4 separate regions of the Homo sapiens genome follow, and regions 1, 2 and 3 are each linked to region 4. The links come from fine-mapping of genetic effects on gene expression. A gene starts in region 4. Each other region holds a variant in brackets. All regions are shown on one strand. Distances are from middle to middle. Region 1 overlaps DIP2C (disco interacting protein 2 homolog C). Region 2 overlaps DIP2C (disco interacting protein 2 homolog C). Region 3 overlaps DIP2C (disco interacting protein 2 homolog C). Region 4 holds the start of DIP2C (disco interacting protein 2 homolog C).

Region 1 (8,102 bases), 210 kb before region 4:
TCTCTATGGCTCACCTTAGCTCCCAGAGAAGATAGGGGGAGGAAGAGAGGGGTAGGGAGGGAGGAGGAGAGGAGGGCCAAGAGGCTCTCCTGCCCTCCTTCCCCAGCACCCAGGGGCAAGCGCTCTGGGCTCCACAGAGGCCTCCACAGGAGTGTCCTGCAGGAGAAGCCTGCTCTGGGCCCTTAGTGAAACTGCCGGGGATTTTTCTGTATTTTCAGGTCTGTCCCAGAGCAGTTTCTAAATCCAGTCCCATTCTCTCCAGGTCTCAATTACATGCTCTTGTTCACATCGTAAAACTTTCTAAAATAAGTGCAATCAAGGACTTTGCCAGAAAGCAAACAGGACAACTGTTGTAAACACTGGTAAGAAATTTAATAATTTTCCTTGTATTCACTGGGATGGGAACATCATACAATGGTAAGACTGAAATTCCATTCTAAGCACCTGCCCTAACCCCATGAATTCTCACACTGCTTTTTTTTTTTTTTTTTTTTTTTTAAGATGGAGTCTTGTTCTGTTGCCAGGCTGGAGAGCAATGGCGCAATCTCCACTCACTGCAACATCTGCCTCCCAGGTTCAAGTGATTCTTCTACCTCAGCGTCCCGAGGAGCTGGAATTACAGGCACCCATCACGATGCCTGGCTAATTTTTAATATTTTTTAGTAGAGATGGGGTTTCAACATGTTAGCCAGGCTGATCTTGAACTCTTGACCTCATGATTTGTCCGCCTCAGCCTCCCAAAGTGCTGGAATTATAGGCATGAGCCAATGCGCCCGTCCCCACACTGTCCTCCTTTCTATCCATCTTTCATGAGCCCAAATCTTTGCCACACATCAGTATATATTTGCTTAGCAACCCTTTTCCTATTATAATGTTTTAACTTGATTAGGGACTCATACACTGGAAATTGTCAGTGATCCAGGGACGGGAGAGTCTGACGTCTGCATCTCATCCGCCAGCCTGAGCTCCAGTCGACGCTCACTGGATGAGGGTTCTCATCCGGCAGCCTGAGAGCCGGTTCACGCTCACTGGATGAGTGTCATCCGCCAGCCTGAGCTCCGGTCCATGCTCACTGGATGAGTCTCACCCGCCAGCCTGAGCCCCGGTCCATGCTCACTGGATGAGTCTCACCCGCCAGCCTGAGCTCCAGTCGACGCTCACTGGATGAGGGTTCTCATCCGGCAGCCTGAGACCCGGTTCACGCTCACTGGATGAGTGTCATCCGCCAGCCTGAGCTCCGGTCCACGCTCACTGGATGAGTCTCACCCGCCAGCCTGAGCCCCGGTCCATACTCACTGGATGAGTCTCACCCGCCAGCCTGAGCCCCGGTCCATGCTCACTGGATGAGGGTCTCATCCACCAGCCTGAGCTCCGGTCCATGCTCACTGGATGAGGGTCTCATCCACCAGCCTGAGCTCCGGGGTCCATGCTCACTGGATAAGACTCATCCACCAGCCTGAGCTCCGGTCCATGCTCACTGGATGAGGGTCTCATCCACCAGCCTGAGCTCCGGTCCATGCTCACTGGATAAGACTCATCCACCAGCCTGAGCCCCAGTCCACGCTCACTGGATGAGTCTCACCCGCCAGCCTGAGCCCTGGTCCATGCTCACTGGATGACGGTCTCATCTACCAGCCCGAGCTCCAGTCCACGCTCCTTGGATGAGATGCCAATCTCACCATCAGGACCGGGCCTTCACGTTTCTGCACTTTGCTTACACCTCGGATTTTTCACAAAACCCACGTGAGCAGTTCCAAAGTGGGTGCTACCCTCCCCACTGGAGACACACCGCATGGCGTAGGCTCAGCTGCACTCCCTCCATAGCGGCTGGCGCCTAAGACGAGGAATGCGATTCATTAAATGTTGCTGAAAAGACCAGGAAATAAACGTACGGGATCAAACTGACAGCTCCCTGTGGCAGAACACGTCTCCGGCAGCTAAGCGTGGTACCCTGTGAAGTGCCGACGGGAGCACGGCTGATCTGGAACACAGGTGATTCACCTGTCACTACAGCAACGCGGTCTAGAAAGATTCACGCTATGTCACAGGCAATGCCATCTGGACACCCACGTTTCCCCTCCTCTGGGATTTAAGTTTAAAACACCCTTACCCTGTGAGCTGCCACATGGCCTGAGACCCTAAGTGGAGGCAACCTGCCCGGGACAGGTCCCCGGGACCCTCCAGCCCAGGTGAGGAGGCGGTCCCTCCCCAGCACGTCTAGGAAGCGCTGCCTTGGGGTCACCAGACTGTAACTCTCATGGCACAACAAGAATACGGACCCACTGCGCACCTGCCCCGGGAAAGCACAGCCTCTGCTGACACGAGGAATCAGAACAACCAACGGCCAGCCCAGGTGAACAGGCCAGGGCCAGCCAGCCACGTCTTCTAAAGACGACAGAACAAAATGGCATTTACGTACTTAAGAAACTTTCTCATTCCGTATGTAACCAAAGTGCAAAATTCACAAATGCCAACTGCAGGGACCTCCTCCCTCACAACTGTCAAAGCCCAGTGGGAGAATCTGCAACGGGACCTCAGAGGAAGCCCTCTCCGTGGCGACAGGGCAAGGCAGCCACTGCAAGCAACAGCACTCAGGCCAGAGCAGCTGTTCTCATGAGAACATGTGATCCAGTCACAGGATCAAACACTGGGATGGGAGCCAAGTTCTGAAAAGATAATAAAATTCCACTGATTGGATGGTGCTGAGGTACATGTTACCCTCTGTCATTTCAGTCATTAATTAGCCCTTACATGTTACCATCTGCCATTTAAATTTACCCAAATCAAGAATAAAAATAAAACTGCAGCCCAGATAGACACCTGAGGCAGTGGAAGGTCTCCGGTGCCTGTTCAGGGCTTCACGTGGATCTGAGCATCATGCGGACACGGTGGCGTCTGCCCTCAGGGACACTGCACATCCATCCTCGTACCACGGTAGGGACGGTCACTCAGTGGGGCGGGGGGAAGTGAGGGCTGCCCCGGCCCACCCCCACAGGCAGACTCAGCCCCTCCGTGCCGCACCCACACATCCATACAGCAAATACCTGCCCAATGTCCACTTTCCGTGAGCAGGCAGCCGGGGCCTCAGGTGATTTACATACTGCTGCTGGGGGTTGGGGTGGAGACTTAGCGTTTAGTAACCACCACCCAACTATGACAGTGGTATTTCAGAGACAGGACGACATGGAGATGGGAATCCGGATGGTCTGACTGAAGGATCAGGGGAGAAATCCCTCAGGACAGAGCATCCAAACTGAGCTTTAAATGCCACCTGGACACGGCCAAGTGCACGGCCTGAGCAGAGTTCCTCATGTGGATGCAGCGGCATGGCTGTCGGGAGGGACAGCGGCGTGGCCATCGGGAGCCCTGGTAGCAGGGAGGAACTGAGACAAGTCCGTATTTGTGATTTGACTCAACAGTTGGACAGCACAGTGCAAGCCTGCAGGCCAGAGGCCTCCGGTGCAGACAGTGTAGAGCTTAACTCACACTGACCATGGGAGGCCTCTTCCTGGAGAGGCTGCTCACGCGACCCCATGATGGAAAAAGTGTGGGGCTTAACTCACACTGACCACGGATACCTCTTCCCTGGAGAGGCCGCTCACGTGACCTCATGGAGAGAGGCTGTGCCGCACAGACAAACCCCCTTACAGAGTCCTTGTAACTTGCACCTGGGCATCAAGCTGTCCGGCTATTGAAGGAAAAGCAAGCTGGGCTTGGAGAGGAATACCAGATCTTCATAAATCACTCAATACCAAGAAACATTTCACAGACAAACACATAAGAAGTTGCTGTGAGAAAGAGGAGCTGTATCTGAGCAAAGAAGGTTCCACCATTTATAGCCACACTGAAATTTTACTCTCTAAATCTCCACGGCCTGTGTCATACAAGCAGTGAGGCCTTGTTATCCAAGTCGACACTGTTATTAAGATCTCTCTGAAGAGGCTGCCAGGCAGTGGATTTTATTTCCTAGGTTTACAACTTTGACTGGGCTTAGAGACTGATGAGGGATGGGTTTGAACCGCAGAAGGGTGAGAGCGAAGTGGGCAGCTTCCCTAAGCAGCGTCTTCTCCCTGAAGATGATCTTCCAGGCACCCTCTCTGACCCTTCTTTCACTGCATGTATAACTCACATTTCTTCCTGGCTCCGGACAGTCTTTTCCTCAACTAGATTTAGGCAGGTGCTCAGCACCAACGCTCACTTCTGAATCCCGACTGGAGGCCCCGACAGACGCTGCCCTCCTGAGCAGCTGGGACGTGCCTGGCTGGCCTAGGGAACAGAACCCCCATTGTAGCTCGTAATTCTGCATCCCAAACAACATCCTAGAAACACTTTTAGAATAGTTTCTGGAG[G/A]AATAGGAATGTAAATGTTAGGAAAAAAGGGTGGAAGTTAATCAGAACACAAACCCCTTACAGGCAAGTGCGCAGCAGCACAGGGGAACAAGAAAGAAAGATGTTTTCCACGAAGATCCTGCACAAAGGAAGTCACGTCCCATGGGGCCAACCAAGAAAGCAGCCTCGGCTTTGGAAACGTCTGCGTTCCTTGCTGCTTCCCAGGACAGCTGCACATGGTGCACACTTGCGTGTCACAAGCAACGTCTCCAAATGAAGGTCGGCAGGGAAACAGCCTCGCTGGGGCCCTAGCACCGCTGTCCGGAGTCCCCCCATCCTGAGTCTGGTGTCTGGGCCTCAATCAGGCGGCCCGGGCCGTCCTTCTCCTGTTTTCCTCACGTTTCCGGCAGATAAATTCTGAAATGGACCTCGTGGCTAAAACCCAGCCCTGTCGCCTTCTCATCAGCTCTGCCCCTTGCTCCTGAGAGGGTGCGAGGGAATCAGCCCAGAGAGGGCTCCTGAGAGGGCCCAGAGAGGAGGAACGCAGTGGAGGCCAGGAGGCGAGGCGGGGTGTCCTCTTCTGAGACCCCAGTGGCCAACTGTAATAATAAAGTTTGCCTCTATGACTTCATTTTACCAATTTTTTTTTTTTGAGACAGGGTCTCGCTCTGTCCCCCAGGCTGGAACACAGTGCCACAATCATAGCTCACTGCAGCCTTGACTTCTTGGATTCAAGCAATCCTCCTGCTTCAGCCTCCCATATAGCTGGGATCACAGGCACCCACCATCATGCCTAATTTTTTCTTTTGTAGAGACGGGGACTCCCTTTGTTGCCCAGGCTGGTCTGAAACACCTGGACCTAAGCAATCCCCTTCCTCAGCCTCCCCAAGTGCTGGGATCACAGGCGTGAGCCACCACCCCCGGCCTTGTATGTGATTTTAAAACACATTTTGAAGTGTAACCCTGAACACGAACCTAAAACTTCCACCTGCATATGATTTTCTTCATTCTGGTGGAAAATGCACTGAACTCCCTTTTTGCATCATGAAATTCCTGTATTCAAAATACTGTCCGCCAAAGTAATTCTTACCTTTGAACAGAATCCTTACCTCTAAGAACATACTCTATGATTAACTGCTTTTTCTATTTCAAAAACCCTTACTTTGCTCTTTGGAGATGGAAATCTCAAAATCACTCCTTCTAGCAGATCTCAGAGGCCAAGACCCATCAGCTCATCCTTTAATTGGGTCTTTGGCTATAAGATGAAAGTCTGTAGAATACCAGTGGCTTTAAGAAGTTTTATAATTTGTCACGCATTCTTCTTAAGTGTTTTCTAAGTGGTGCCCAACTGAGAAAGGGGAATTGTAAAAGCAACGTTCTACTTCAATAGGAAACGCAGAACTGGGCCCTGATTCACAGGGACAGACCTGGTCTCTGGCGAGCTCTGGGCCTGTGGAGCGACCTGGCTCACTGGAGAATGGGACCCTCAGGCCCCCAAGGCCACACCCTACACGTCTGTACGGGATGGCACTCGGCGGGTGGCCCTTTTCTAATGTGTACCCTGCTGTGGGGCTGGCTCTCAGCAAAGCAGCGCTCACCGAAACGAAAGTAAAACAGAGGCCGGTTCCCTGCGGTGCTGGCCACCCGCTCCCGAGCCGCAGCTTCTCGGACGTCGCACACCCCGATGTGGGCAGAGCGGAATGTTCTCCTCGGCGCTCCTTCACTGTGCTGCAGTCTACACCGAACCACGGCAGCTCCATTCGCTGCTGTAACAAGTTGAAAAAAAACTAATTAATTCAAACTTTAGTTTTTTTTAAATTTGTTACAGCGCTGAGCAGAGCTGCCGACCCCATGCAGGACAGCACACAGACCACCAAGGGGACCACAGGGCACGACCGCCCTCTGCGCCCGGCTAAGGCCAGGGCCACCGCGGGAGGCACGGTGCGCTGGAGAACCGTCCTGGCAAGCGAGGAACCGCTTCTGTTTCACTTTTGTTTGGCAAGGCAAGAAAGTTAAAACCAACAGCGTCCGTGGCCTACAGTCAGACCCCACCTTCTGCAGCACATGAGGGCACCTGCAGAGGGGAACTCACAGGGACAGGGCGGGGGCAGCTGTCGCCCCATGGCTCTGCGAGAAGAGAATGAGGGAGGGGGCGCAGGCCATCAGGGGATCTACCCAGCACTGCCCTGAAGCCTCTCGCCCCAGCATTCCAGCCCAGCCCTCTGCTCCCCTTCTCTCGGGTTCCTCGGCGTCTATCCCTGACTTAAGCCTCTGCTAAGCAAGGTCCACAGAAACATGTTCACTGTTACATCACTGTCTCAAAAATCAAGGCAAGAAAAACACGAAATGAAAACAAAACTACCAATAGCAGAATCTCCACACCGTTTCCTGCAGCCTGAGCCTCAGGAAACTTTCCTTACTGAGTCAACAGGACCCGGACGGGCCTCGGGAAGAACAGAATCGGGGTTTGTGCAGGTGTGGACATGTGCATCCTTAAACCTTCTAAAATCTTCTTTCAATGGTAAGAACTATGCAAGTTCAATTTCCACCTTTAAAATTTATGTTGCTAGCCTTTATGTTTGAGGAAGAAACTGCTTGTGTTAGCTTTAAGCCATTCCTCAAGCCTACCAAATTTTCAAGGTCGCTCTTGGGCTGAATTGAGCTTGCCAGCTGGGAACTGAGGTGCTAGAATCCCCATCTAATATGAGATTCTTTTTCCTGACATTTACAGAACCCAGCTCAAGTGCAGGAAAGCTGCCAATCTGCACACGTAGAAACGCTGGCGGGAAACCGACTGCCCTTCTCAAGAATCATCATGGATGTTTGCAACCACATCTCAACACACAACCAGCTTTCACGATTGCCAAGTCCTGGGCGGGGTATCACAGCACTGTCTAGATTTGGCCTGTGCCACCAACAGAAGCCTTGGATTAAACCAGAATCAATAGTAATAAATAGCTCTCTAAACCAAATATGTTGAAATCACTAATGCACTCATATTTTTACGATTATAGCATTTTAAAGTAACCAACCCAATACCGATCTCTACTTATAGAGAAAACACCTATTAGGCACACTTATAGAAAAATCCTCTGTGCCTTGTATATTCACACAGCACGTGTGATCACTCAAAGGAACTGAATGCCTGGAGGGTGAACGCCAGACGCCTCCTCCTGCCGACTGGGAAGCAAGGGAGCGTCTGCCTCCAGATGTTTCTCTGGCACATAGTGAATGCGGGAAATGAGAGGACTCATGCTACTCATGGGGGTTACCTACTCGGAGGCTGCGGAAGGTAGGCTCCAATTAACTTTGACCTCTTCTTTTCATATCCTTTTTGTGTGATGTCACCTGCAAGAGAAGGAAAATGAAGTTCAGTATGGTCTCCGTGGATAGAGCATTATCATTCAACGGTGCCCAAGAAGACACAGTTATCACAGTATCTTCTGTGTGCCTCATTGTTAGAATTTTAAAAGCAAGCACTGCACATCAAACAACTTCAGTTCCTCCCCTGCTCTCGAACAAAAGCCCACAGCATGTAAGTCACTAAAACTCATTTGTTAAACACACGCCTGTTTCTGGCCCCTTCTGTATTTATCCGGATGGGGTCCAGGGTTAGACCCCTGCCATCTCATCCCCACCCGCTGGCACAGGAAGCCAAGCCTGGTGGCCGGGGCTCTCGTTAACTCAGTCAACGACAGATCCTGCAGCTGCCAGGGCCGGGATGGCCGACACCAGCACCTATTGGCATCTTCTTCATTAACAAGATGTTTTCTA
Region 2 (8,102 bases), 150 kb before region 4:
GCACCCAGCATCCTGCCCCCCGTCCCCCTCCCCCGCACACTTGTGCCCAGGGCACCCAGGACACGGGTATCACCCATGTTTCAGCCAGGCTTGTGTTTCCCCCATTAACATGACAACAGGAGAGGGATGAGGGAAGACACGAGACACAGGCTGGTAAGTCAACTCTAGGTGGTGCAAACCCATTGCTCTGGCAATAAGCAAAGCTCTTGGGGTCTCCCTAAATATCGAGCAGTTATCTTTCGTCTGCGAATTTTTTTTTTTCCCCCGAGACCGAGTCTCGCTCTGTAGTGCAGGCTGGAGTGCAGTGGCGATCTCGGCTCACTGCAGCCTCCACCTCCCAAGTTCAGGCGATTCTCCTGCCTCAGCCTCCCAAGCAGCCTGGATTACAGGCACGCGCCACCATGCCTGGCTATTTTTTGTATTTTTGGTAGAGACAGGGTTTCTCCATGTTGGCCAATCTGGTCTTGAACTCCTGGCCTCAAGCGATCTGCTGCCTCGGCCTCCCAAAAGTGCTGGGATAACAGCCACGAGCCACCGTGCCTGGCTGTGAATGTATTTTAAATTTTTAAGCTTTTTGTTTCTAGACTCTGTATCCTCTGTGGATAACAAATGCTTCCCGAGGAGTTTTCTTTGGGACAGGGTCTTGCTCTGTCACCCAGGCTGGCATGCAGTGGCACAATGATAGCTCACACCAGCCTAAAACTCTGGGCTTCAGAGATCCTTCCACCTCCCACTCCCAAGTAGCTAGGACTACAGGTGTGCACCACCACACTCGGCTAGTTCTTTTTTGTAGAGATGGGATCTTGCTATCTGGTTGCCTAGCCTGGTCTCAAACTCCTGGCCTCAAGGTATCCTTCAGCCTTGGCCTTCCAAAGCCCTAGAACTATAGGCATGAGGCATGAGCCATTGTGCCCAGTCTCCTGAAGATTTTCATCATAAACAGGTGCCACAATCCTGGACTCTTCCAGTCCGGACCGTACAGGGGCTAGGGTGAGAGAGGGATGGTTCAGGGTCTCAACGTGGAAATGATGGGGCCTGCCTGTGCTCTCAGATCTAAGTCAATGTTGTCAGCCTCTGGGTTTCAGTGTTTTGGGTTTTTGTTGTTGTTCTCTAGCCAAACTTAAGAACCTCACAAATAAGTCTAAGAACCTCAAATTACCCAGGAAGGGATATAAACATTCTAAGGTTCTTATTGAAAACGTTTCTTTTTAACAAAAGATAACTGTACCTATTAATACTATCACAATTCTAAATTATATCAAAAAAATTGTAAGCACTGGGTAATATGACTTTGAAAAATGTGCTCACTAGCAAAAAGCAGCACATAATTTAAATGTACATGACTACTAAGAACTTTTTCTGTGTTCATGAATCTGCTATATGAACCTCAGTTGTGAGTTGTCTGTTCATGTCATTCCGTGTGTTCTGTGAATCTGCTGTATGACCTCAGTTGCGAGTTGTCTGTTCACGTCATTCCATGAGTTTTGTGAATCTGTTCTACGAGCTCAGTTGTCTGTTCACGTCATTCCGTGCGTTTTGTGAATCTGCTATATGACCTCAGTTGCGAGTTGTCTGTTCACATCATTCTGTGGGTTTACTGAATTCCTATGGCATTTCTCATCAATTAAGCAAACCTTTCATAGAGTGCTCATATTAATCCTTTAATCTTTGCTGTATTCGATTCTTAAATATTTATTTTGCTTCTAGAGTTTGTACTCTATCCTGGGGTTCCAGGCCTGTGGATTCAACCAACTATAGATCAAGAATATTTTTTTAATGTGTTTGTACTAAGCATTCAGACTTTATTATTCATTAAACAATATAGTTTAACAACTATTCACATGGCAAGTACATGGTATAGGTGTTATGAGCAATCTTGACATGACTGAAAGTCTACAGGAGGATGTGCATATGTCATATGCAAACACTATGCCATTTTATTCCAGGGACCTGAGTGCCCACAGACCTTGGTATCCATAGGCAGTCCTGCAACCCACCCCCATGGGCACTGTGGAATGGCTATAATAGAAAATATAGAGGTTTTAAAAAGTTATGTACTAAATCTAATCTTTTGTTAAGAAATTACTGTGTGTCACGTGTATTATTTGGAAGTCGTTCCTGGTCCAGAGACTTGACATGTTCTTATCTTTTTGTCCACTGATCTAACTAGTCATTCCAGTAAGTTTATTGAACACAAATCAATTTTACAATTAAATTCTTAAAGGAATCACACTCATACTGTAAGCTGCTTTGGTTTTTAAAGTGAAATAACAGTTTTCAAAAACAGCTATATCATAGAATAACAGGATAAAGCAGACCTACAATATGCAAAAACATGGGATTTCAACGCTAACCAGTATAAAACACATTACAAACCCCTAAATATGAAAATGTTTGACACCACAGATATTCCAGAAAAAAACAAGATGATCAAAAAAGCCATTTGCAGAAAGCCACTTTCCCCTTCACTTTTCACATGGTTTCTAGAAACTTGTGTTTGGCAATAACCATGAATCAGAAGCAGCATCCACTGCAACTACTGCTACTGCAACACAGAATATTAAAGCAAAATAAAAAGGACACAGCATATTTCCTATTTATGAGAACAGGTAGAGTGTTATAAAAATGATGTGCGTGTTTTAAAGTCAACAATGTTCAAATTCTAGGTCTCCCGCAGACACTAGACGGTAACCGCCAAAGCTTATGTACTTGGAAACTTTCAAGGAGACCAAGTTCAGAGCTGTCACAACGCAGCACCATCCTCACACAATTATCTCAGGTGTGTTTGAGGGCAAGTGCCCCCGTCACAGGGGGAAAGCTGCCCGGCCCAGCACTTCCTGAGATCACACAGAGCTTCCACCTTCCCACATCTTCAATAGTTCCTTTACACTGGGAACCAGAGAGCAAAACCTAAAACACTTCCTCAAATCTCAAGACAGTCTTGAGTCCTCTTCTCCTTGCCCCTTCTCTCACTGAAAAAGCCTATTCTATAAGCAATCTGTAGTGCTTACCAGAGCTGGGGTAGGAGGAAAGCTAGTGTTTGGTAGACCAAGTTTCAAGCTTGGGGAGACCAAGAATATGGCGGTGATCGTGGCATGACAGTGTGAACGCACTTAATGCCACCAAATCGTACACTTAAAAATGGTCACAGTGCTATGTAATTTTACCACAATAAAAAGACTAACTGAGAAAAGTAATCTCTAATTACTGTCTGCCATTTCTTGCATCCTGTAAGGTGCATTTGCTTTTGGAAATCCTCAGAGCAATCATGAAAGACTAATACCCTGTCATCTCTGAAACACAGGTAAAGTCTTTCAAGGGTTTTGATTATAGTAAAGTAGCTGGAAAGCAAAGCATGCATTAGACACAGCAGCCGTGATAGGACAAACACATGGTAGGAAGGTGGTGGTCGTGCTACACGCAGATGGGGAAGGATGTGGGGAGCCACAACACCCGATGCTGGGGAGCCACAACACCCGATGCTGGGGAGCCACAACACCCGATGCTGGGGAGCCACAACACCCGATGCTGGGGAGCCACAACACCCGATGCTGGGGAGCCACAACACCCGATGCTGGGGAGCCACAACACCCGATGCTTGGGAGGCACCTGGGCAGGAGCTGAGAATGTACCAAACACGTTCTACCACGCAACATTCATGGACCCTGAGTCCGGCCACCACCGCCGACATCCACTCTGGCTGAGGTGTCCTCTGTCACAGACACACACACCCTGCCGAGGACAGTGCACAGGTTAAATGTCAAAGCACAGACATGCTCAGGTCCAGCTGCTCAGCCAAAAGCAAAAACACATTTCCCAGACACCACAGCTTGACCTTCCACCTGACCACACCCATCTCTCCTGCACCCCACATCGTGACCCTCCACCCGACCACACCCGTCTCTCCTGGACCCCCCCGAGTGACCCTCCACCCCCATATCTCTCCTGGATCCCACAGCATGACCCTCCACACTGACCACACCCATCTCTCCTCGACCCCACAGTGTGACCCTCCACCTGAACACCCCCATCTCTCCTGGATCCCACAGCGTGACCCTCCACATGACCACACCCATCTCTCCTGGACCCCACAGCGTGACCCTCCACCCGACCACACCCGTCTCTCCTGGAACCCCAAGAGTGACCCTCCACCTGACCACCCCCATCTCTCCTGGATCCCACAGCATGACCCTCCACACTGACCACACCCATCTCTCCTGGACCCCACAGCGTGACCCTTCACCTGACCACACCTGTCTCTCCTAGACCCCACAGCATGACCCTCCACCTGACTGCACCCTGTCTAGTGCATCCCTGCACCTGTCTCTCGGCCCCCCTCACCTCACTTCCTCACCTTCTCGTCGGGTCAAGCACCAACAATCCGCTGTGTGCCTGGTGCACTGAGCCTTGTCAGGGGCCTCTGGGCCGCGTGCCAGGACACGCCCCTGGGGACTCCCAGTGCACACGTTGGTCTCCTGCACACTTGGCTCTTCTATCTGCGGGAGCCGGCACCCACCCCTACAACTGACTGCACTCTCAGAAAAGTCCCAGAAGACCCCTCACCAACCCAGCAACACCTTGAGGCCACATCCCACTTGCCTGCTGGCTCCTGAACCTCCCCCACCCTGTGACGGCTCACTCCCTCCTGAGCTCCTTC[T/G]GCTCCCTGCCTGCCTCTGCGAGTTACCTCCTGGGCGATGCCAGGTGACGGTAACATCAACCAGGAGGCACTGCTGAGAAGCAGAAAGCATGGTGCAGTGCCCAGAACGTCATGTCCCTCAACAGATGCTCTATGTCTTCTCCTCCTCTCCTGGCAGAGCTTTGCTGTAGGAAGAAGGCCATTCCTCCAGTGCTGCTACTTCCAACACTGGGGAAAACAAGCTTCAGAAAGGAACGGTGTCAAAGAGGCAGGACCCACCAGCAGGACTGCCAGCGGCCAGACGACCACAGCCCCAGCATTCCCCAGCCACTACGGCCGACAGCCCAGGCTCCAGAAATGCACAGCTTCAACCTTCAGAGTAAAAACCCTCCCAAGCCAACTATTTCTTCAACAATCGGATTGGGGAATGGAGGGTTCTAACCCTGCCCCTCTCTATACCACAGATCATCAGATCCCAGTTCTTATCAGATTGGGAAGTGGGGGGTTCTGACCCTGTCCCTCTCTATACCACAGGTCATCAGATCCCAGTTCTTATCGGATTGGGGAGTGGGGGGTTCTGACCTTGTCCCTCTCTATACCACAGGTCACCAGATCCCAGTTCTTATCAGATTGGGGAGTGGGGGGTTCTGACCCTCCCCCCTTCTCTATACCACAGATCATCAGATCCCAGTTCTTACGGGATTGGGGAGTGGGGGGTTCTGACCCTGCCTCTCTATATACCACAGATCATCAGATTCTAGTTCTTTTCTAAGCCCAGCACTTTGCTTCTGCCACATGCAGTCATCCTCAGCACCAGGAAAAGTCAAACATTGAGTGATGACGATGACACCAATACCAAAAGTCAGAAACATTGAGTGATGATGATGACACCGATACCAACACATGCGGCTCTGGCAGCTTTGGTAACTCGCTGCACAGATACAACTGGACAGCAGTGAGATCCATGGACATCACCAGTCTTCGCAAGGATCGTGTTCCTGAATCTTCTGCGTTAGGAATAACCGTCTCCTTTGCAAGGGCTGAACCATGCTTCCCACTCGCCTGTCCTCTGCCTTCACCAGCTTTGTGCGCATTTCCGGGCAAGTGTCTGTGCAGGTGCCATCACTGATTTCAGTAGCGAGAACGTACACAGACACCACACAGAAATGGGTAACCCTGTTAGGAGCTGTGCAGGGAGATCTAACTCATCAGATGTGCCAAATTCCTGTTGCCATGGAAATTAAACTGACGTTGCCGTGACCACATCTCTTACTGCACCACTAAAGACCATCTGGGTAAGAGGAAAGTGCTTCTGCAGAGCATTCAGCTCACGTTTACATGTCCGTTTTCCCTGAATACGGTTGTTACGTGAGATAGAAATCAGTAAGATAGGCTGTAACATATAGTATGGATCGTTGTGTCTCCTAGGCTCAAACACATCCTTTAAGATCCTCAGAAAATGAAGTTTAACTCTCTGGGGACATGAGTTACATAGTAACATGTTTTGGATACAGTCTCTTTCGCATTCTAAATATCAACACCAAATAAGTTCTTTAGTTTCTTTTTACATTGAAAAGCATTTACAAACCATAAAATCCCCCATATTAAAGGGTACAATTCAGTCTTTTTAGCATATTCTCAAAGCTGCACAACAATCACCACTAGTATTTAATTCTGGGACTTTTTCACCACCCGCAAAAGAAACCTTGAATCCATTAAGAGTCAGCACCTGCTGCTTCCTTCCGCCAGCCCCTGGCAATCGCCAGCCGACTTCTGTTTCTCTGGATTTGCCCACTCTGGACGCCTGTCGTGAGTGGGCACATAGTGCGTGACCTTTGACGTGACCTTTGGTGCCAGCATCTTTCACGTTCAAGGTGACTGGTATCGTACAGTGCGTGACCTTTAGCATGACCTTTGGTACTGCCATCTTTCACATTCAAGGTGAGTGGAATCGCACAGTGCGTGACCTTTGGTGTGACCTTTGGTGCCGGCATCTTTCCCGTTCAAGGTGAGTGGAATTGCACAGTGCTTGACCTTTGGTGTGACCTTTGGTGCTGGCATCTTTCACATTCAAGGCTCATTGGAGCACATGTTCTTTTGTTCCTTTTTACGGCTGAGTGATACTCCATTGTGTGCAAATTTTCTTTATCCACTCATCTGTTGACAGACATCTGGGCTGTTTCTACTCACTGTTACGAATAATGCTGCTATGAAGATTCTTGCATAAGATTTTTTTGTAAAAACGTTTTCAGTTTTCTTGGGCATATGCCTGGGAGTGAAATTGCTGGGTCGTACAGTGATTTTATGCTTAACTTTTCTGAGGAACTGCCAGACTTTTCCAAAGCAACTGTACCATTTTCCTTCCCCTCCCACTAGCAATATATACAGATTCCAATTTTCCCATCTTCACCAACATGTCACCGTCCAGTACTGGGGTTTTACCCATCCCAGTGGTTGTGAAGTGGTATCTCACGGTGGTTTTCATTTTCATTTCTAAGATGACTAATTCTGTTAAATATCTCATGTGCTTTTTAAGGCATTTATGTATCTTTCTTTGGAGAATGTCTATTCAAATCCTTTGTCCATTTTTAAATTGGATTTTCTTTTCATTGCTGAGTAAGTTTTTAAAGATATTCTTGATATCAGGCCCTTATTGGGATAATGTGTCTTGTTCTGTGGGTTGTGTCTTTTTACTTTAATAGTAACCTCTGAAATGAACATTTTTAATTTTGATACTGTCTTTTCCCCTTCAGTTGCTTGTTATGCTTTAGACATCTCATCTAAGGAACCATTGCTTAATTCAACGTAACAGTTTCACCTGGATTCTCCCCTAAGGGTGTAATGAGCTGAACTGTGTCCCCGCAAGATTCCCATGTTAAAGCCACAACCCCTAGAAACTCAAAATGTCACAGGGCCTTTAACGTGACAATTTAGGTCCCATAAGATCTTAAGAGTAGGCCCTGATCCAACATGACTGGTGTTTTCCCTTTTTTTTTTTTTTTTTTTTTTTGAGTTTCACTCTCTCTGTCCAGGCTGGAGTGTAGTGGCATGACCTCAGCTCACTGCAACCTCCGCCTCCCAGGTTCAAGCAATTCTCCTGCCTCAGCCTCCTGGGCAGCTGGGACTACAGGCACCTGCCACAACGCCCAGGTAATTTTTGTAGTTTTAGTAGAGATGAGGTTTCACTGCTGATCTGTAACTCCTGACCTCAGGTGATCCACCCACCTCGGCCTCCCAAAATGCTGGGATTACAGGTGTGAGCCACCACGCCCAGCCATGACTGGTGTTCTTATAATAGAGAATTTAGACACACAGAGTCCTCAGTGCTGCACACACATAAGAGAAACCCATGAGGACACAGAGAAGACGCCGTCTACACAGAATGGGGTGAGGACCCGGAGGATCGAACCCTGCCTGCACCTTGACCCCAGGCTTCCAGCCTCCAGAACAAAGGAAATAAGATGCT
Region 3 (8,102 bases), 190 kb before region 4:
CTTGAATCTCCACACCTGAGTGAACTAATTCCACTCACAATCAGCAGTCCGGGCCACAGAAGCAGGCGCCAGTGGAGATGCTTGCCTCCCCTCAGGGGTCCTGCTGACAGACCCCACCAGGACGTGTAGAACACAGCGCAGTCATGCTTCTTCCTCCCTGCTGCCCAGGGGGCTCTCTCTTAGGGGGCTCGTCAGAGATGCACCTCTGTCAAGGGATGACTGACTTCCATTTCATTTACCTGAAGTTTCTGCCCATTCCTTCCCAGAGAATATAATTTTTCAATGAAGAAGTCAGCTCACCTCAAGACTCTGGGCTCAAGCGTGCCCCAACCTCCATCCCCAAGTACAAAACCTCCTCTCAGCTCCAGCACACCTCAGGATGAGCCAGGACCCCACTCACCGTTTCCCAGTAACACCCCAGGCCTGAAAAAAGCTACTGCTGTGTGGGCGAATTAAGGAGGCAATGCGCATTTGTTGAGTCCTGCCAGCTAATTATAGATAAAACAAGCTTTCTGAGAGCTGTGAATGTGGATTTTCTATGGTGTTACTTATCTGCATGCCGGCATTTCTCACCAACGCTGCTCTGCACCGCACAGCACTGCTGACTCGGAGAACAACTTCTGCTTTCCTTGAGGAATTCTCAACCACCAGTTTTCATGCAAGGCACTGACTATGAAAACTTCAGTCCTATTATTTTGTTATCCTTTTTCAGACTTTGAAAATGGGCTGCTCAATGAGAACAGTATGGCTGAACCCCACGATGGTCACACAGCTGAGGTTCACCACACGCGATGCTGACTGACTCCTTGTCAGCATTGCAGCCCTGACCCCTCAATGGCTACACAGCTGAGGTTTCCCACATGTGGTGCTGACTGGCTGCTCGTTGGCAGCGCAGCCCTGACAGCAGCATTTGCACTGTCACCTTCTCCCTGTGTGGACGGCTGGGCTCCCCCTCTGTGGACCGCTGGGCTGCATCAGTCTGTTTTCACGCTGCTATAAAGAACTGCCCAAGACTCTCTAATTTATAAAGGAAAGCAGTTTGATTGACTCACAGTTACACATGGCTGGGGAGACCTCAGGAAACTTATGATCATGGCAGAAGGCGAAGGGGAAGCAAAGGCCTATCTTACATGGCGGCAGGTGAGAGGGAGGTGTGCGAGGGGGAGGACAGGACCTACTGAAATAGTACCATATAATATCTGACAGAGCAGCCAAGGGCTGGTGGCTGCAGGTCGCAGGAAGGGAACACAGTTACCAAAAAAACAGATCTCGTGAGATCTCCCAATCGCGAGGACAGCATAGGGGAATCCACCCCCAGGATCCAATCACCTCCCCAGGTTTTGCCCTTGGCATGTGGGGGTTATGGAAATTACAATTCGAGATGAGATTTGGGTGGGGATACAGAGCCAAACCGTATCATGGGCTTTACTAACACCATTTTAAAGGAACTCTGAAATGTCTAGTTACCATCTGCCAAATTGTTGACTTTATCATAGAGCAAGCATGGATATGCCAGCCCCTCGAACTTGTTAATAGCCTAGGTGCTGACTAGGACTTATCTCCAGTAACCTGACCCTGCCACAATGGGACTGGGGAAGGGGCCCCAACCCTAAGCCCAGCTCTTGCTCGGGTGGATTTTGAAGGCAGACAGGGCCACTGAGAGCAAGTTCAGACCCAGGGAATAAAACTAGGGCCCCCTCAGCAAGCGCAGACTCCTGCAAGCCTTCACAGCAGATGTGGGTTCAGCTGGGCCCTCCCCTACATCTGTACCTGCCAGGGACCCCTGCAGGCAATGTGCCAGCTTCCCTGACAACCACCTCTGTGCTCATCAGCGTCTGGGGCAAAGGTGGGTTCAGAGCCAACCCCTGGCCTGTCTCAGGAGCAGGGCCCATGGCTACTTCTGTGTTCTCTTCCTGAGACCTGCAGCCACCAGCCCTTGGCTGCTCCAGCAGACGTTATACAGTACTATTTCAGTAGGTCCTGTGACCCCACAAGTCCAGGATACATGAAGGGAAAGTGACTGCTCCTTAGTAATTAATCAAACAAATACTGCAGCTTTCACTTGGCCCTTGTTTGGGAACACTGTACGTGCCTAGGTTTTACACGAGAATTTCCAAATGCCATAGAAATTATCCTGAACTTTATTTCCTCATTCATCCCCCAAATATTTAATACCTATTGTGTGCCATGCAATGGACAGAGTACATAAAACAGAAATCCTACACAAAACAAAGTGCACACGAAACACAGACACAATATCACCAAATGTTCGCTGGATAAAAGATTTAAAAAGTTGTATTTTAACTTAAAATCTTTTAAAAGCTGGAAATACAGGGATGCTTAATTCAATGACTCCAATGATTTTCTTAAACAAATCACCTCATCTGGGTAAGCAATGGATAACAAAACAAGACAGGCCAGGTCCCATCAGGACAGGAATGACTGCGATGTCTCCCCCCATAGGTTTCAGGCTTCAGAAAATGCTAAGATCTTTCTATCATCCTTAAAGCTATTTTTTTTCTGACAACCTTGCTGTGTAAAATAATGGCTCAGTCCCAAAAAGGCTTGTAGTTAATTTAAGAGGCCTGAGGTTTTCTTTTGGAGAGCGGAGGGGGCAAATGACCTACCAGAAGTTATATGTAATAAGCTCAAGTTATTCCAGAGAAGTTTGTACACACATTATGACTTTCTCTGAGGCCAGTGAGCTGCGGGCAACCCTCCAGGAAACACTGAGGCTTCCTGTGCACTAATTCACATTGTGTCAAAAATACTGAGTTGCAGGGAGGAAAGCAGAGATGATTCCTGGTGCAACATGTAAATGTGGTAAGATTTTGATGGTTTCACTAGCTATTTAAATAATAATGTTGATAGTACACACTTTAGTTTGTGGAAACATCCTTTCTAGAAGATCTTGCCCAACCTTTATTAAGTGGCAATAATTAAGAATATACTTTATTTAGAAGGCAAATAAAGTAGAATGTATGCAGTCCTATACTCATTGATACATTATGAGTAGAACTTGTTAAGATCTCTGCTTTGCAATACCAACTTTTATGAAACAAACCTGTTTATGTAAGCACATATGTATTCAAGGATTTTTATAATAATATGTTTATGAAAACACATGCGTTGATACCATATTACCCCAATTATAGAGGGAAGATGAGAATATCTGATCAGAAAGAATGGGGAGGCTTCATTTAAAATGAAAAAAAGGTCAATAATCAAAGTGCAAAACCGATCGAAGAATATGATCGTATTACAAGGTGACTTGCAGAACAAAGCAGTCCAGACAGGCAAAAGGACTGGCACGGAGAAACACAACTGAGTGAAATTACATT[G/T]AATTCAACACATAGGCACCGCAATATCCATTCATTCAGGAATATGCGTTACACACCGACCACAGGCCAGGCACTGTGCCAGGTATTTGGCAATATCAGAACACAAAACATAAAACCTCTGCACCTTCGTGGCACTTCAATTCCTGGCCAGGTGTGCTGGCTCACACCTGTAATCCCAGTGCTTTGGGAGGCTGAGGTGGGAGGATCACTTGAGCCCAGGAGTCTAAGACCAGCCTGGGTAACATAGTGAAACTCCATTTCTACAAAAAACAAAATTAATTAATTGGGTATGACAGCATGCACCTGTAGTCTCAGTTACTCAGTAGGCTGAGGTGGGAGGATTGCTCGAGCCTGGGAGGTCGAGGTTGCACTGAGCTATGATTCCACCACTATACTCCAGCATGGGTGATAGTGACCCTGTCTCAAAAACATTCAAATTCCCACATCATAGTTTTTACAACACCAATATACCATGCAACCATCTCCCTGATAAGCCCAATCATTTACTGGTCAATGCACAGAATGTGAAGATATTATGAGGCACACACAGGAACTAAACCTACATGAATTTTTATCTTTTGCTAAAATGAGATTTGGGTGAACTAAATAAAACCACCATGAGTGTTCAAAGGAAAATACTTTTCAAGTGAACTGAAACAAAAATTAAAATCTATGAAATGCAGCCAAAATAATGATGGGAAGTAAGCTCATAGGACGAAAGGCTCATATTCGAAAAAAGTAAGGTCTCAGGTCCATAATCTAAGCTTCTATGTTAAACTCAAAGCCAGAAAAAGACATCATAATGAGCACAAATCAAAGAAACTGAAAACAGAAAGGAGGAAACTCAAGTCACACCAAAAGCCTACGTATAAAAATTCCCAAGGGATCTACAAAAGTCAGTCCTAGATCCAATACCTGAGTTCAGCCAAGTCACAGCACACAGTCAAAGTGTACTCTACGTATTGGCAATTAGTATTTGGGACCTAAATGTTAAAAACAACACTATTTACAGTAGCTGTATAAAAAACACTTAGGTATACATTTAACAAAGCACACAGAGGATGTGTATGAAGAAAACCACAAAACACTGAAGAAAGAAAGGAAAGAGCTACCTCAACTGAGCCACGAGTCCAAGGAGAAGCGGCAACACAGTCAAGACACCAATTCTCTCCACGTTGACCAACAGACTTACCACAACTCCAACATAAATCCCGCCAGGACACTGACCTGCGGACTTACCACAATTCCAGCATAAATCCTGGCAGGACACCGACCTGCAGACTTATTACAATTCCAGCATAAATTCCGCCAGAACACTAACCTGCGGACTTACCACAATTCCAACATAAATTCCGCCAAGACGCCTACCTGCAGACTTACCACGATTCCAACATAAATCCCGCCAGGACACTGACCTGCGGACTTACCACAATTCCAACATAAATTCCGCCAGGATGCCTACCTGCAGACTTACCACGATTCCAACATAAATCCCGCCAGGACACCGACCTGCGGACTTATCATGATTCCAACATAAATCCTGCCAGGACTTTCTGTAGATGCAGACAAGCTAAAAGTTACATGAAAGGGAAAGAAACAGGACAATAAACGTTCCAATTTAAAAACTGGCAAAGATCGAACAGACACTTCAATGAAGTGGATGGACATAATAAGCACTCGGAAACTAAAAGAACTGACCACAAAAGAGAGTGGCAGTGCTACTATACATAAATTTAACAAGCAAAATAAAACTACAAGGGAGAAACAAATGGAACCAAGGGCTACAAAGATGTATCTTAAAGCTGGCGGAAAACCATGGAAGTGTTCCTAGCCTCTTTCTCTGAGAGCACCACCTGACCATCCAGGAGTCGTCACTGACAGACCCAAAACCAGTGGGTGCTAACCACAGCTTCCACCCTGAGAGGGAAGAGTCATTTGAAGAACATCCAGCAATATTCCTTCGGCTCTTACCCCTCTGCTGTGCCAAACACCGAGTTAACGTTTGCTGGCCTCTATATGCACACTGAGGTCTGCATTTGTAACCGCATTTTTACATCTTTCAGGACAGGACAATCCTCCTTTGTCCCCTATGGTTTTCATCACGGTTCTATATACACCTGAAAATCTCTGCCGCCTACATCAGACGTTTTGTCTAAACCCATTACTGTGACTTACCCTAAATTTACAACCATTGATTTCAATTCCAAGTCCAAAGACTCATTTCCACAGTAATTATTTTACTCAGAAATTAAATTCCAGATTCCTGATCACACTTAAAGTCAACTGCTTTCAACTTCTGGGTTATAGATACAACTGGTCTAATTCTGTAACCTGAGAGGATTTCATGGAAATACTCTCTCTTCATCTCACGACACACACAGGTGGTAACTGCAGCCTTCAACCTAACTGCCTTCCTAACCAGAGCATGAAAGAGCAATAAAGAGTATTTATCCCCATCTCCTTGGGCTGGAGACCCACAGCGTATCAATCACTGTCAAATCACTGTTGTGCAAAAATCAGTTCCAACGCCCTGTGGAGAATAAAGGCCACGCTGGAAGAGGCACGCAAGGGAAACAGCCGTCTGCCATGGGGCTCCCACCCCCGAGACGGCAAATCCATGCAGGCGTGCCGAGGCTGGCCACCCGCTGATACCCTGCTACCATGGAACTATTCCAGGCACGAACTACCTGGAAGTCCTGGGAGAGAAACCCAGCACACAATGTTGCCGTCAGACCTGCAGGTGTGATCCCTAGCACAGCCACCTTAGGCCGGGAGAGCGAGGATGGGACTCAGAAGCTGCAAGATGACCATGCAGAGAAGCACCCACGGCTCCGTGACCAAGTCTGACCATGCAGAGAAGCACCCACGGCTCCATGACCAAGTCTGACCATGGAGAGAAGCACCCACGGGCTCCGTGTCCAAGTCACAAGTGACAAGATGAGACGCTTCCCGTGTTCCCATGTTCTGTCACTTTAACACTAAAAATTTAGTACATCTTACTGTTTCCTAAGAAAGCATAAGGCCTGAGTAGCAGGTGGCCGCTAACCTGGTTCTTTTCAGCTTCATAACAGAAGGCAATAGCTATATAAACCAAATCGCACTATGGCTGCATCACGGCTTTCATTGCATGTCAAACCCTCAGCTCCAGCGGTGCTGACCCCGTCATACTCAGAGAAGAGGTGAGCTCTTCAATCTCCATTTCTCAACACTCCAAGCTGTTTCCATATGAGCTCATGTGACTCTCAGTGCTAGGTTCGTTCATTCATTCATTCATTCATTCAGCAAAACCGCCGTGAACCCGCGGGATCCCCACCCTGCCCTCCAAGGGATACTATTCTGATGGGACCTGTGTCCACACCCATATTACTGCAGCCCAGCACCCTTCCCGGAACCGTGTGCATCTCCCCAAAAGAAAACTGTACAGAAAACGGCAACGGGTCCAGTCATGTTCCGAGGAGCAATTCCAATTGCTGATGTTTTAAGGCAACAGACTAATAACCGGCACCTCATCAACACAGAGTCACTAACTTCCCAGCAGTGTCTCTAGTCCCTCTACAAGGATATACAGATATACACGCAGGAGCTATCTTAGGAGGCAACAAGACGCTCTTCAGGAAACAGGAGAAAGCAAAACATTTGAGGAACGGACAGGGGCATCTCCACCTTCTACTGCCACAATTTGTGTGTTAGTGATCAAGCCAAGGTTCTCAACCTTTCCAATCTATTAACCCCCTGCCTGAGGCTCTCGACTGATCCCCAGCTGTACTTCCTGGCAATAAACAACCTGCCCAGCTGTGATTCCTGTGTGCACCTGACACCAGGGAGATGGAGCTGCCTGCCCAGCGGTGCTTCCTGTGGGTGCCCCTGACCCCACAGGAGATGGGGACCACCTGCCCAGCTATATTCCCTCTGTGGGCACCTGACACCAGGGAGATGGAGCCACCTGCCCAGCTGTGCTTCCTGTGGGTGCCCCTGACGCCACAGGAGATGGGGACCACCTGCCCAGCTATATTTCCTCTGGGTGCACCTGACACCAGGGAGACAGAGCTGCCTGCCCAGCTGTGCTTCCTGTGGGTGCCCCTGACACCACAGGAGATGGGGACCACCTGCCCAGCCATATTTCCTCTGGGCGCACCTGACAACAGTAGGATGCTGCATGTGCCTACACTGACAGCTACAGCATCATCTCCTGCTGTAAAAACTCCCTTTCAGAGGTAACAGGACAATGGGGCAGGTTTTCTCCTGGAGAAGTAAAGAAGCTGAGAAATCCAGGGGATTAGGAACGCAGGTGACAAAAGGAGGTTGTGACATCTACACGATGTCACATTTGGCAGCACAAGGGAGTGCTGGTATGTGCTGCTAGGTACTGTTATTCCCAGAACCACCTCACACTGCATGGCATTGACATGCTTCCCATGCTCGTTACCCTTCGGAAGACACATTTAAATAACCTTGACTTGCTGGGATGCAGCTGGAGAGAGATGCCTGGAGACCACCAGCCCAGAGTCAAGGCTCCATTTTCTCCTGCTTGCAGGACTTCTGCATGAAGCTAAGGCATCCAAATGTGCATAAGATTTATGAAGAGCAGACAAGCTGCATGACATCTTCTGAGAGGGAAGCTGTGCCATGTCAGGGGTTGGGACAGCAGCAGCAAGGGGGATCAGCCCAAGGCCTGGGGAGAGGCAGTTGGGAAATCTCAGTGTGTGTAGCCCTGGGGTCTGAGGCTTTCAACTGTCCATGTGGCTCCCACAGCTCAAGTCC
Region 4 (8,102 bases):
AAAAAAAAAAAAAAAAAAAAAATATATATATATATATATATATATACATATATATATATATATATATAAACACACGCACACAGGTCCCTCAACCAACACAGGAAGACCTGGCACGTGCGCGAGCCTTCACCTCCCTCTGCAAGCAGGTTCTCCCCTGCTGAAAAAACATTAGGCTGCACTACTGTGGAGCATAACTGCTCGCTGAAGGAATCGGCTACATTAACTAGCAGAGCAGAGCATGGAGGATGGAGTCAGTGGGCATGGAACACGCTGACAATTACCAAAGCCACAGAGTACAAAGCATGGCACCTATTTTTCAAAACTTCTCTTCCACCAAAAACCAACAATTTTTGCAGGCTATATTATGAGTTCTATCAAAATAATTCAGCACCTCCTAAACAAATGGGAAAGAGCTCCTTCTGAAGCATGCACTGCCCAAAAAGATCAGTGACCAGTCAACAGAGAAACTTACTTCCTAATTTGAATCAACAGCTAAATGCAATCTTTTTTAAAATAATAATAATAATAATAAGACATGAGTCTGGGCACAGTGGCTCATGCCTGTAATCCCAGCACTTTGGGAGGTCGAGGCGGGCGGATCACCTGAGGTAAAGAGTTCGAGACCAGCCTAGCCAACATGATGAAACCCCATCTCTACAAAGGTACAAAAATTAGCCAGGTATTGTGGCGGGCACCTGTAATCCCAGCTACTCAAGAAGCTGAGGCATGAGAACCACTTGAACTCAGGAGGCGGAGGTTGCAGTGAGTTGAGCTCATACCACTGCACTCCAGCATGGGAGACAGAGTGAGACCGTCTCAAAAATTAAAAAATAAATAAGACATGAGTTTGTCTTTATGGGGAAGTTTTCTGCTTCCACTCCAATTTGTTTGGCAATTCCATGTAAAGTATCAGTTATTAATGAAATTATTTTTAGGCCCTTTAAAGCCACAAAAAAGAATACCCAATTATAAAGGGCAAAAATGTAGGGAAGAGAAGGGAGAAGAAAATATTCTGGGGAAAGGAGTATGAGAAAGCAGCCGCCACAGCCCTCTCATTCCTTGACCCTCCCCAGAATGGAGCTCCAGATCACCTGGAGGCCTCCCCACCCTCATGGCCTCCTCACCTGCAGGGCCTCCTCAGCCACAGGGCCTCCGCACCCTCACGGCCTCTCCACCTGCGGGGCCTCTCCACTAGCACAGCCTTCCCCCCACGTGGTCTCCCCACCTGCACAGCCTCCTCACCCGAGGGGCCTCCGCACCCTCATGGCCTCCCCACCTGCACAGCCTCCGCACCCACACAGCCTCCCCACCCGCACAACCTCCCCACCCACACAGCCTCCTGACCGTGTGGCCTCCTTACCTGCATGGCCTCCTCCCTGGCTCACACTCAGACCCAAGTATGTGAGGAGATGACCCCCCTGGCCACACAACCTGAATGTATCCCCACATGGATTCGAGGCCATCAGCTCCCACAAGAGGGCTGCCCAGCACTTCTCCCCACAGAGAGCCCTTGTGTTTTGCTGGCCGCATGCTCTGTGGTGTGAGCTGGCCTCACCTTCCCCTGTGAGGGGGCACAGGGCACGGGACAGGGACAGGCAGTGGAAGAAGGATGGAGCCCTCGGCCCCGCAGCAGGAAGTGCCCCTGCAGCCCTGCAAAGCAGGACACCAGCAGTGCATGTAATGGCGCCCAGCAGGCGGGCACAGCAGAACTGGACCAGGGTCTAGAAACCCACACAATGCGTAACCCACGCAGGCTGGCAGCCCACACAGGAACCTCAGGGGAATGCTCTACTCTTTCCTTCAGTCTATGTTATGTGCTTAAAACGGAACTTTTTCCATCCTCCTCTGTAGGAAATGAGCACTGGAAATTCCACATATGTTTCTATAATATTTTCTGATATTTTAATAAAATGATGACAACCAACTTAAAGAATTCTCTCCACTTGAATTTTGATTGAAGATGGGAAATAATTCAGCATTAACAGCTGTTTTCAGCTTTCACTCTGAAAGCAGATACATTGAGGAATTTTTGAAGTCCAATAACATAAAGAAACACAGAATTTTGATCCTTCAATTCTTGGATTTCTATTAAGCAATACTGGAAAACAAGTTGATTCATCTAATTTAAGCCTGTAAAACTGTTTTATGTGGTTATGAGACAGAGAATTCCAAATGACCTTACAGCACTACCCCCATAAACTCAACCTGGGCAAACCCACACTTCACAGCAAAGTTAAAGACCATCCAGCAAACAGATGAGGCAGTGGGGCCAGCACAGGCCGGAGGGTGCAGAGAGGCTGAATAGAGCCACGGAGCAACCCTCTCACCCTTTCTTCTTAAATGTGTAGCTCAGATCTCAGCAAGATTCATGTGGAAGGAAAAATATAATTAGGCTTCCTGCATGCAAACACACACACCCCTTTCTCTGCCTGGTCTCTCAATAAGAAACTAACTCATTAAGCCCTTTTTAAAAAACCTGTACAGACGCAAGGTGTTCACAGGGAATTCGGCTGAGCACACCTTCGTCGAAAGTGGCTTTGCCATCATCTGGGCAGCAAGACAGTATCACTCACCCTCCAAGAGCAACTGACAGGCAAGTGTCGTCACCTCAAAAGGCCACAATGCCCAACACAGGACACCCATTCCCATAGACATCCCAGACTCTGGGAACAAATGTGGGTCCAACTTCTGGGCTAGCAGTGGGTGGGGGAACCCTCAGATGGGGCTCGCCCTGCTGAGCTCAGGGGCGCTACGCTCTGCTGACCTGGATGGGGCACTGACACTTCACATCAGTGTGATGCAGGCAGCACAGAAGCCCCTGTCCTGAGACAGCGAACACGGAGGGTGCTGCAGGCAGGGGTGCACCTGGGCCGAGACGCAAGCCGGGAAACCTACCCAAGGCTGACACAATCAGATAACCAGGGTGGGCCTTTTGCAAATGATACACTCCTTACCCACCAAACGAGCTGTCTGCACTGCACAATCTACTTACCAGTTTACATCCGAACCCTGCACACGGCAGCTCCCGCCTCCTAGCCATGCCCTCCTCATCCTCAGCTCCTCAGGAGGGCAGCAGCCAAGCCCACAGGCCTGGAAGACTCTGCCCCCCGCCAACTGTGTCACGTTACAGGACACTGACACACCTCGCGGAACCCCACATCTGAAACTGAAAAACAGTACCATTTCCCGTCCCCAGAAGTCTGGAAAGGCAGTTGGCTGCACACCATGGCCCCTGCTCACTCCCTTCTTTGCCCTGAAAGTGTTAAAAAGGAAAACATAAAGTCAACACCAGCTCCTCCCTGCCGGTGAAAATTGGCACGAATGAGTTTACTTTCTGGCTGCCGGCCCTCACAAAACCGTTACCCAAAAAAAGTTCACCATGCTAAACTGCTCCAAATATAAATGTGAGACGCGCCGGCCCACCCCCACCCCACCCCACGTTACAGGAATGGCCTGACCAGGATGAGCCCAGAGACGGCTAAATGCACATCAAACATTTCAGATTTGGGAACTTCAGTGGTTTTGGGGAAAAGACCTGGCAAAGCCCGATCTGAAACTTATGACAGTTGAGCACATGATCTCCGCCATGAAGAGCAAATAAGAGGCGTACACAACCCTCCATAAGACCGCGGTGGCTGATCTGCCACAAACCCTCCTACGAGAGGACCAGGACGGCAAGGCCGGAGCCCGGCCCGGGGGGAGGTTGACGATTCCGCCCAGCCCTCCCCGCGCAGCGCCCGCGAACAATGGGGGTGGGATCCCCCGGGCCGCGCCAGGACCGCTGCACGGCCTGAGCCACCAGAGATCGAACCCGGGGTCCAACGACAAGTTTCGCATTGAAATCTGGCCGGGCGTTCCAGGCCGAACCCGCCAGCGAGGAGGTGGCGCGCACCGCGCTGCTGCACCAAGGACGCCGCGGCTCCAGCGCAGAGCGCACGGGAAGGCCGATCCCGCCGGGCCCGCTGCATCCTGCGTCCCCGCGCGGCGCCCAGGCCCCACAGACACCCCCAGGGCGCGGGGGGATCGCGGCCCCACAAACATCCCAGGGCGCGGGGGATCGCGGCCCCACAAACACCCCCAGAGCGCGAGGGGATCCCAGGCCCCACAGACACCCCCAGGGCGCGGGGAATCGCGGCCCCACAAACGTCCCCAGAGCGCGGGGGATCGCGGCCTCACAAACGTCCCTAGGGCGCGGGGTCTGGGGGTCCGGGGGACGCGCACGCTCCGGGCTGGGGTCGCACCTCCCCCTCCGGGCCCGGCCCCCGCCCCGCCGCAGGCCCCGCGCCCCCAGCCCTCCGCGCGCGGCCCTCCCCGGTGACAGCGCGGCCCGGCCCGGGGCGGGGGCCCGGTTACCTTCCGACAGCTCCAGCTCCAGCTCGGCCAGGCGCGCCCGCACCTCCAGGGGCAGCGCCATGCCCTCCAGGCTGCGGTCCGCCATGCTCCGCGGGCGCCGCGCCCCGCACGGCCTCCTCTTTGTTCGCAGGCGGAGGTCTCGGCGGCTCCTCGCGCCCGGCGGAACCGCACCGAGGAGGAGGCGGCGGCGCGGGCGCGGGAGGCGGGCGGCGGGCGCGCAGGGACCTCCCTCCCCTCGGCGCCTCCTCAGCGCGGCCCCGCCACGGCCGCCTCGCGCGCCCCCGCGCCCCACGGTCCCCGGCCCGCCCCGCGCGCGCTCGGCCCCTCCCCGCAGGCGCTGCGGACCCGGACCCGGCCCTGCTGCTCTCGGCCCCGGCCCGGCGGGAGCGTCTCTGCGCGCGCGCGTCACGGGGCCGCGGGGGCAGGGCGCGCGCGCGCGGGGCGCGAGGACGCGCAGGAGCGGGAGCGCGCGGGGGGGCGCGCGGCCGCGTCGGCGAAGCGCGCGCTCCCGGGGGCGCGCTCGGGGGCGGGTTGGGGGCTCGGGGCCCGCGGGGCGGGGCGGGGCGGGGCGGTCTTGTCTGTCCTGGGCTCTGCGCGTCCAGCGGAGCCTGCGGGCCCGGCCCCAGAGCCTGGTCCACCCGGCTCCCTGCGAAAATCACGTCCTGGAGCCGCAGCTTGACGTCTGCGCGAAAACTCGCAGTGCCCCGGGTCTTGGAGGGCTGGTTTTTTGTTAATGAACATTTTAAGAGGCGGAGACGGAGCGCTAGGCTGGAAGTTTCGAATGCAACGACCAGCAGATGACCTTGAGCGACTCTGAGCCTTTGCCTGGAGGGTCAGTGTCCCCATCTGTGAAAAGGGGATGGGAAGACAAGGTTGGGTCACCTAATCTCCAAATGCCAGGTGGGCCCGAAAAGCCTGGCTCCAGCCCTCCCGGAACAGGCTGCAGGCCCCAGGGTTCCCACCGTCCTTCTCCTTGTGGGGCCATCAGCTCCCAGCCTCAGTGCCACCTCGGCGAGGCTGAAGCCCCGTCTGTGCCTCTAGTCCTGACCATCTGGGGAGGCCCTCGCATCTCCAACCGTCCACTGAGCAAACTTCCCTGGAAGCCCCTAGACACCCCAAACGCCACAAACCCTAAATGAAGCCAGCTGCTTCCAGTGACTCTTAGTCACTGGAAGTTCTGCTTCTCAGAACCGCCCCCGTTGTCTTCATCATCACCTTCCTCTGTCTCCACACATCCTCCCCAGTCTGTTGCACAAAGCCCCGACGACCTGGCCTCCTTTTCATCCTTGTACCCCCTCTTCCCAGCCCGGCCCCTCCCTTAGGCCCAGAGCTTCCTAAAGACCTCCTCGCCTCCCCGTCCTCCACGGGACATTGGCCAGCGCTGGCTCCCGGAGGCCCAGCTGCACTCACTCCCCTTTCAGAGTGGGCCGCAGGAACACAGGTCCCCCACCTCACCCCCCTACCCCTACCCCCCACCACCCCCCCACCCCGCTTCGACCGGAGCCCCCACCAGCCGGGACCCACCTGCACGGCAGCCTTGCGGCCTCCACACTCCGGCTCCTGCAAACAACGCGGCTGACCCGCAGCACCTCTGCTCCCGGCCTCCACCCCGGAGAGCCTGCCCCTTCTCTGCCCCTGCCACCCACAGCCATCCCTGACCCCAGGTCCAGAACAATCTCTCTCCTTTCTCTTCCTGCACCGGCCACTTCCCGCCCTCATCACGTTTGACCTTTTTTATCTTCTCTGTATTCTTTGTGAGTGTAAGCGCCTGGAGGACAGAGCCCATGCCTCACCCACCTTTGCCCTTCCCATGGATCTAGCAGTGGTGGCAACCGCCAGAGGTGTGTGCATTTCCTGTAAGGATCGGTCCTTTCAGTGGGGAATTGTGAGAATGACATTCGACGATGAGCTGGGAAACAGGAACCCCAAACCCGTGTGCTTCCTGCGCCGAGCCGTGTGCCTCCGCCTGGTGTGCGCCGTGGGTTCGTCCTTCGCTCCAGACTGCGTTCAATGCAACAGATACGGGTGGCACAAGCATGTGGCCCCACCATCATCTCTCCCCTTTGCATGATAAAGAGACCGACCAGCAATGCAGGGGCCGTGGGGAAGATCCCACACAGCCCCTACACGTCACAGATAAAAGTCCTTAGAGACAGAAAGGGGAGCAGAACCAGGATTCAAACCCCAGTCTCCAAAGCAAAGCCCTGAGTTCATTTCATTACAGCAAAGATGCACTGTGCATTCCAAGCAATAAATGGTGTCAAGTCCATTTAGGGCGGTATAATGTCGGAATAAAAAATATATATTCGCGGGCCAGGCACGGTGGCTCACACCTGTAATCCCAACACTTTGGGAGGCCAAGGCAGGTGGATCATGAGGTCAGGAGTTCAAGACCAGCCTAGTCAATATGGTGAAACCCCATCTCTACTAAAAACTACAAAAAATTAGCTGGGCATGGTGGCACACACCTGTAGTCCCAGCTACTCAGGAGGCTGAGGCAGGAGGATCACTTGAACCCGGGAGGTGGAGGTTACAGTGAACCGAGATCGCACCACTGCACTCCAGCCTGGGTGACAGAGCGAGATTCAGTCTCAAAAAAAAAAATACATATATATATATATATATATATATATATATATTCTTTTTGATGGGCCTTAATCATTTGCATATGATCCTATGACTGATGTTGGTTGCAAAGAAAACTTGTAATTTGCATTAAACACATCAATTGCAAACTCAGATTTTGAGCTGATGGTTCCTTTCAGCAGGTCTTTGGGCACCTACACATTACACGTGTGAGTGTGGGCTCTCGGTCTTAGACTGCCATTTCCAGGAGCCTGATAGATATCATCTTTATCTGGAACTCCTACCATCTCCTTGAAATTCATGCTGTCCACAATCAAACTCATCCTACCTACCAATACTTTCCCCCATGTACATTATTTCTGAGAGCAGCCTCCCTTTCACTTTGAGTCCCCTCAAGAACTTCTACCCACAGCATTTCTCTTGTGCGCCACCTGCTCCTGTCGAGGCCTCTGGCTATGGCCCATGTCAGGCCTTCAGAGCCTCCTTCCAGTCTTCCCACCACGGCTGTCAGATCACTCTTCTAAAAAGTCCCTCTTAGCACAGACCACAGGCCCCTTGCTGTACAACCCATGATTCTATGCCTGCAAACTGAAGAAATCCTTAATTGACACCAATGGTCTCACGAGCCCTGCACTAAACATTTCTCCTGCTTTCTGTTCCTCCCGTCTCTTTCAAGCTCCGAGGTTCAGCTGCAGAATTCCCAGCTGTCCATGGAGAGTCCCCACCTGTGGTGTCTGTTTTTCTAATGTGCTCCCTCCTGTCGTCTCCCCTTCCCCACAACCTGAGTCATAGCCGCACACGGAATTTCACCCAGTCCAGTCCAAGTTCAAACGCCACTTCTTCCATGCAGCCTTCCCAAATCTCCTGGTTAGAAAGATTCTCTCCCACCTGTGGAATTACACACCTCTTTATCCACCTGCTCTCCCTGGGATTGGTCATTTATGTGTGTGTTTTGTCTGGTGGCTGGCTTATCTATAATTGTCCCATTGTGTTGACTGACACCACAAACAGCATAGTGCCTCTGTCTGGAAGTGCAGACCAGCACAGGAGCGGAGAGGAGCAGCCCCTTCCTCGGTCTCATTCTGCTCCACCTGTGAGCAGCCTTGCGGAACGTGTGGTTGGTGAACACCTTGCCATCTTACGTGTTCCTAAGTGTAAAAACC

The links. PIP is the estimated chance that this variant, and not a neighbour inherited with it, causes the effect.
Region 1: its variant is fine-mapped to the expression of DIP2C in whole blood (INTERVAL, PIP 0.93).
Region 2: its variant is fine-mapped to the expression of DIP2C in cerebellum (GTEx, PIP above 0.99). The same link has a PIP of 0.9 or more in cerebellar hemisphere.
Region 3: its variant is fine-mapped to the expression of DIP2C in blood mononuclear cells (TOPMed, PIP above 0.99).

The regions. Positions count from the first base shown.
Region 1 is chr10:478,855-486,956 of GRCh38, forward strand. It overlaps DIP2C (disco interacting protein 2 homolog C), which reads right to left. Exons shown (of 37, transcript NM_014974.3): 2 at 7,605-7,676. Among named protein-coding and RNA genes, the nearest start is that of DIP2C-AS2, 150 kb to the right of the region's middle. The variant G/A (reference allele first, on the strand shown) is at 4,350.
Region 2 is chr10:537,544-545,645 of GRCh38, forward strand. All of the region lies in intron 1 of DIP2C (disco interacting protein 2 homolog C), which reads right to left. Among named protein-coding and RNA genes, the nearest start is that of DIP2C-AS2, 87 kb to the right of the region's middle. RefSeq lists an enhancer at 4,197-4,697. The variant T/G (reference allele first, on the strand shown) is at 4,658.
Region 3 is chr10:498,377-506,478 of GRCh38, forward strand. All of the region lies in intron 1 of DIP2C (disco interacting protein 2 homolog C), which reads right to left. Among named protein-coding and RNA genes, the nearest start is that of DIP2C-AS2, 130 kb to the right of the region's middle. RefSeq lists an enhancer at 1,303-2,249. The variant G/T (reference allele first, on the strand shown) is at 3,342.
Region 4 is chr10:685,141-693,242 of GRCh38, forward strand. DIP2C (disco interacting protein 2 homolog C) reads right to left here and starts at 4,528. Exons shown (of 37, transcript NM_014974.3): 1 at 4,354-4,528. The coding sequence starts at 4,438. RefSeq lists an enhancer at 4,903-5,838.